Linked DNA regions of Homo sapiens. The protein of the gene in region 2 purifies or fractionates together with the protein of the main gene of each other region. This does not show direct contact. Each region holds a gene or a part of one and is shown on either strand. Other genes may lie near its edges. The genes, in order: ACVR1 and SACS.

Region 1 (2,525 bases), on a different chromosome or scaffold from region 2:
ATGAGTAGCAATACAGGATCTTCAGCATCCAGCAGCTTGTGTTTGGGATTTCAGATATACAGAGATGGAAAGGAGGTTAAAAGCTTCACTTAAAGTCTCTTGGTTTATACATGCAGTCTTAGGGCTAATAGCAGTAGTCATGAGTCTCCCGATTCCTGAAGCTGCATATTCACAGAAATTCTTACAAATATTGTCATTCACTAGCAACCCCTATGAGATATGGCTTCTTCAAGAATGGAGTATTTTTCTGAACTTACTCTTCTAGATCTAAACCCTTCTATATAAAATAGGAAGAGAAAACAACAGATCCACGGGACAGATCACTCAGATGCAATACCAGTTGAAACTCAAAGGGAAACAAATAGCAAACAATGGAAAAGAGCTCTAAAACTGAGAAACTGGCATTCTTACCGGGTCTGAGAACCATCTGTTGGGTATGTTTGGCCTTTGTTGATCCACACAGACTACCTTCCTCATATCTTCAAAACTTGGGTCATTGGGAACCACATCGTAGAACGGTGGCTTGTAATCCTCCACTATACCTGCACACAAGGACAAGAATTGTGTTCGGTTAGCAAGAGAGTACAGGTTGCCCCAAGGTTTCATTGATGGGTGTCACAGGTTATAATGTGACAGAAGAAAATACTAATCACCTTCCTCATACCTCAGGGCAGTCCTGGAAGCTAGAGGTAGGTCCTAAAACAGGTGGGAGAAAAAGGCAATAAATACACACCCTGCATGGTATTGGAAGAAGGATAATTGTTAGAAGGAAATACGTGAAAACTTCTCATGTAATCATAACTATTAGCAAAATTCTCCAACAGTGTATATTAACAGCTCTGTAACGCCCAACAGGGCACTGGAGACATAGAACAAAAATTCCTTTGGTGATAAAAACCACCCAAGCTACCTATGGAAAGTACCTGAATCTAGTGGTTTCAAACCATAAATAGAAATAAAAAGTTGTCCACAAACTAGAGCTAGGGAGTAATAAACCAAGACCATCATCAAAATACCCCTTTCTTTGTTAGAAAAGTATTTTGTTAAGAAAAACATTGCTATAAATTAATCTCTTCCATTAGGAGGGATGCAAATAATATCATAGGAAATACTCATTTCCTCATTCATTCATTCTACATGTACTGAGTACCCTCTAACTACAGGCACAGCTGTCTGACTGATGGCTCTATTATTTACTATCATATTGAAGGCACAAAATAAAATGTAAAGAGGATAGCCATGTGGGAAGGCAGAGGAAAAGAAGGATAAATAATGAACTCTTCCTCTGCCCAAAAGCAAATATGAACAGTAGCTAATACCAGCTTCTGCCCCTGCATGATTTCCAATGGCCTGGAAACTTTTTCTTTTCCAGCAGAATTATATCAACTCCTTAAACAGAAAAATTTTTAACTTCATCATTTGGAATTAGAAAATGGATTCTTCCCCTTCATAGAAATAAAACCAAGACATCTATTATTTCCTTTCCCTCAACAAAGGGTTCAAACAATGAGGTAATAACTTGGTTTACTGCTCTCTTTTCTTCCTCCAGGCGACTTTCTTCTATTCCTAAATACCTAAGAAGTTGTTGGAGGCGACAGAAGGAGTGTGAGGAAAGTTGTAATTCGGTTGTTCTAGTTCCTACAAGCCACCTGAAAAGCTTCAATTCCCTTTTCATTTATCACAGAAATTACTCAACAGTGGGAATCCATCCTTACAAATTCCATACAAATACAAACCATTTATGCAAAAGATTAGATATAAGGAGCATCTTTTCAAGAAATGCTACATATCTTTTTAAAACTTCACAAATTTGGCTAAATAAAGGTTTATATTTGAGATGGAAACAAGTCTAAATTATATTTTTTAAAAATCTAGGCTGGGTGTGGTCGTTCACGCCTGTAATCTCAGCACTTTGGGAGGTCGTGGTGGGTGGACCACTTGAGGTCAGTGTTCGAGACAAGCCTGGGCAACATGGCAAGACCCTGTCTCTACTAAAAATACAAAAATTAGCCGGGTGTGTTGGCGCGTGCCTGTAGTTCCAGCTAACTCAGGAGGCTGAGGCACAAGATTTGCTTGAACCCGGGAGGTGGATGTTGCAATGAGCCAAGATCAGACCACTGCACTCCAGCCTGGGTGACAGAGTGAGATTCTGTCTCAAAAAAAAAAAAAAACTAGTTAATTCCAAATAACTTACCCACATTGTGTAACTGCATTTGAAATGCATATCAGTCAGTGGATTAAAACCTTTCCTGGCAAATCATAAACATCATATTGGGTATAAACTGCTACTCTCAGAAATCTTGGAACACCTCATCTTAGAGGCCCTTCTTCTCCTGTAAGGATCCCAGGAAACATTCAAACAAAAATCTTTTAATTATTTTCAGTACTAACAGACACCATCTAAAATACAGCTGAACATGGACCTAGAGAGATATTTTATGCGTTTTCTAGGGTCACAAGAATTTACAGAAAACAGTAAGACACGTGCCCTTCACCATCTCTCAATTTTTCTGAAAGAGAATATA
Region 2 (3,833 bases):
TAAAAATAAATCAAAGCCATCCTAATATAATTATTGGTGATCATTTAAATCCTTACCTCATTAAAGTACTAAGTGCTAGAAAGGAGTATTTGAATTCTATACGTATCTAGAATTTGTGCACATTTTCACATAGTACTACTTTAGCCTTTTTCCTTGTTTTTAATGCAATGATAAATTTCACCATTTAAAAACCCTGATAGGATTACAAGATTAAATACAAAAAATATTGCATAAGACATAAACATACTAAAAAATAATTCGTGGTTTATCTGAAACTCAAACTTAAGGTGTATATGTTTATATTTATAATTTTTATTTGCTAAATTTGGCAATATGATATAAACAGAGCTTTACTTGATCAATGATAGTTACTTAGAGCTTAAGGATATTAGTTTGTTAGGTCTTTAAGCTTCAAACATAAATTACAACCAATCTTTATGAGTTTTTTGTCAATTACACCAAATATTCCTTTAGTTTTATTTATTAATTTTTTTTTTTTGAGATGTTGTCTAACTCTGTCACCCAGGCTGGAGGCCAGTGGTGCAATCTCGGCTCACTGCAACCTCCACTTCCCGGGTTCCAGTGATTCTCCTGCCTCAGCCTCTCGAGTGGCTGGGATTACAAGTGACTGCTACCACGTCCGGCTAATTTTTGTATTTTTAGTAGAGACGGAGTTTCACCATGTTGCCCAGGCTGGTCCTGAACTCCTGATCTCCAGTGATCTGCCCACTTCAGCCTCCCAAAGTGCTGGGATTACAGGCGTGAGCCCAGCCAATATTATATTAAATGTTTATGCTAAGTGACCATCCAGAGACAATCCTGATTACAAAGAACAGATCTATGTTCATTTTACTGTCATATTCCTGAGAGTCCCTGCTAAGAATAGTAATAAAAAGTACCCAAGATTTTAATGTATTTGGAGGAAGATATACTGGGTTTTGGAACCTGGCTCCACATCATACTAGTTCTGACACTTAACCTCTTGCAGCCTCAGCTTCCTCCTTCTTAAATGGGATTCATGATAGGTTAAAAATCCCTACCTCGGGCCTGGCACGGTGGCTCACGCCTGTAATCCCAGCACTTTGGGAGGGCCAGGTGGGCAGATCACGAGGTCAGGAGATCGAGACCATCCTGGCTAACACGGTGAAACCCCGTCTCTACTAAAAATACAAAAAAATTAGCCGGGCATGGTGGCGGGCGCCTGTAGTCCCAGTTACTCAGGAGGCTGAGGCAGGAGAATGGCGTGAACCCGGGAGGCGGAGCTTGCAGTGAGCCGATATCGCACCACTGCACTCCAGCCCGGGTGACAGAGCGAGACTCCGTCTCAAAAAAAAAAAAAAAAAAAAAAAAAAAAAAAAAAATCCCTACCTCAACGACTGAATCACAGTTTAGTGAGCCTCTGCCATGGTTGTACATGGTCAATCCTCCCCAAAGAATTAGTTTTTAAAGAAATAATTGAATATTATTTTTCCTTCAAAAAGTCAATATTATTAGATAATATCAATTAAGATATTATGTATTCTGAAATGACACTTAAACATCAAATATATTTTAGTCATATAATCTATTTTTAAAATTTCATTTAGCAGCTTTGAGATATTCACATACCATACAATTCACTCATATGTGATATTATTTTTATGTAAAATTTTATCTTTGAGAATAATTGAGCTTTTGAAGGCAAACCTAAGACTCTGGGAGATTCTATTTCGGTGCCAGCCTTCTAGTCTCCTGCCTCCACAATTAGCTCTGCCAGTTGACAAGCTAGAATCTGAGGCCAGATAAACTACATACAAAATATGTGTAGTTTTATTATCTGTAAATTGGCTAAAGAGACTAAATTATTCACTCTTTATTGAATACTTTCTGTATCCATAAACCTAAGTAGGAGAGTCAAAGGTGAATAAGATATTCTTGAGCAACTTTCAGCAAAGTAGATGAGAAAGATTTGTATGACACAGAAGGGATTTGGAGCACTGGGGGAATAATTTATATATTTTTCTTATTATTGAAATACAGTATTTTTTCTGTTGTACATTTTACATCGAAATCTTTATTACACACACACAAAAGATCAGTAGCACTCTCCTTTACCTTCACCTTTTGTGCTCTAGAAACTATTTTACGTACATATTTAATTTCAGGATTATATTTAAGGTCTGGTACTGGCTGTGGTGACCCCCGACCTTTCCTGCAGCACACTATGCCAACACAGGTCTTTCATTAATGTCATCCAAAATGCTTGCTGTGCCTTACCTTTAAAGGTCTATTGATTTATAGCGTGAATTCATCCGACTTTTCCATTTTGCAAATATTCTATTTTTAAACCAATTTAGTCTTTGCTGACTCATATTTTCTCCTGAAGTTAGGAGAGTGAGATGATTACTTCGCTGATAATTCCCATGGAGGCGTTCTGTGGGCCTGAAGTCTGTCTGCATTTGGCTCCTTGTTTTTGTAATGATAGCGGCTTTCAAGGGTCAGCTTTCACCATATTCCAGAGGATTTGGCCATGTATGAATTTGGTTGAACCAAAAGGATGAATTTTTCATTCCCATCTTCAGATGAACATGGACCCCATTTCTTAGGAGATCACCAAGGGCAATTCTGCCTCTATTCCTTTCTCAAAGAGCGTTTCTAGGGAAACTCAAGCTGTTCTGCCAGGTGCAGCTGCAGAGGCGTGTCTGTGAACACGGCAGCACTGAAAACTATGAAAAGCGAAGGAATCCTTCAGGGAAGAGGGGCTTTACTAGTCCCAAAGACACTCTTAAACAAACAGACAAGACAGCATATCAGAGGAGATAGAGTATTCGTGTGGTTCCTGATTGTATTTTAACCTCATTCCTGCAGGAGAGGCCTTTCTTGTCCCGTCCTCGTCCTCGGGGACCAGCCAGGTGTTGCTGTCCTAGTTTCTGGGAAGCAGCTTTATCCCCCCTTCTCTCCGGTGCAATTCACTTTGTCACCTCAGGAACTTCTTCACTTCCCACACTCTTCTCCTGCCTCCCTCTGCCAAAAGGCTCTACCTCTGCCAAAGGGCGGCGTTTAGCTCAGGGAACAGCTCCCATTATTTATACAATAGTTATGATTTAAGTCCCCAGTCTCCTGGCTGTTCCTGTTTGAAACTGTGTAACTCAAAGAACTTTTCCCATCAGTGAGTAAGTGCAGCTGGCATGTTTATCTTCCTACTCCTTAAATGAGATCATATGTACAGTAGTGCCAAGTTTTCCTACTGTGGGTCAAGCCCATATGCCAAAATAGGATATTTTTGCTGGGAAGGCCAAGAGGTCACTGCGTGGCACATCTGCTTGCTAGCTGTGGGCAGTGGCTTGAGGTTCCAAGCTGGGGAGGAGGGGAGCCCCTGTCCCTAACAGCTGCTGGACAGCACTGATTGTTTTGACCCCTGAAGCATGAGAGGAGGTCATGAATCAGTGGGCAGAGAGTATCATGAACACATTTCATGTCACTTCATGTGTTAAAAAATATTAGATCAGCAAAAGTAGTAGCATCTAATATTTGCAAAAACCGTCTGCAGTTGACTAAATGCTGTTAGAACACAGCTCAGTTTGGTGTTGCGGTGATACAGTTCATGGATAAGGCAAGCTGGCCCTGTTTAGGGATGAGGAAAGTTGGGCACAGCGAGATTATGCGATTCTCAAGCCATGGTGAGGAGAAGACCGAAGAATGTTCTCTTCCATCAGGTGGTGCTACTCCCCAAATGGTAGGGTAGAAGCAGCGTTCCTCTTCTGAAAAGAAAGAGAAGGAGGAAGAAGGAAATGAGGTTTGAGGGGGTGAAAGGAAAATATCTTAGGCCCCCAAAATCACTAAGGAAAACTCAA

What was found.
Region 1: the proteins of SACS (region 2) and ACVR1 purify together in Homo sapiens (co-immunoprecipitation; one large-scale study listed by IntAct). This does not show direct contact.

The regions. Positions count from the first base shown.
Region 1 is NC_000002.12:157,738,029-157,740,553, forward strand, and holds part of ACVR1 (activin receptor type-1 precursor), read right to left. Parts: intron 543-2,525; coding exon 412-542; intron 1-411. UniProt on the Homo sapiens protein: Bone morphogenetic protein (BMP) type I receptor that is involved in a wide variety of biological processes, including bone, heart, cartilage, nervous, and reproductive system development and regulation.
Region 2 is NC_000013.11:23,426,874-23,430,706, reverse strand, and holds part of SACS (sacsin), read left to right. Parts: intron 1-1,837; exon of another isoform or gene 1,838-3,740; intron 3,741-3,833. UniProt on the Homo sapiens protein: Co-chaperone which acts as a regulator of the Hsp70 chaperone machinery and may be involved in the processing of other ataxia-linked proteins.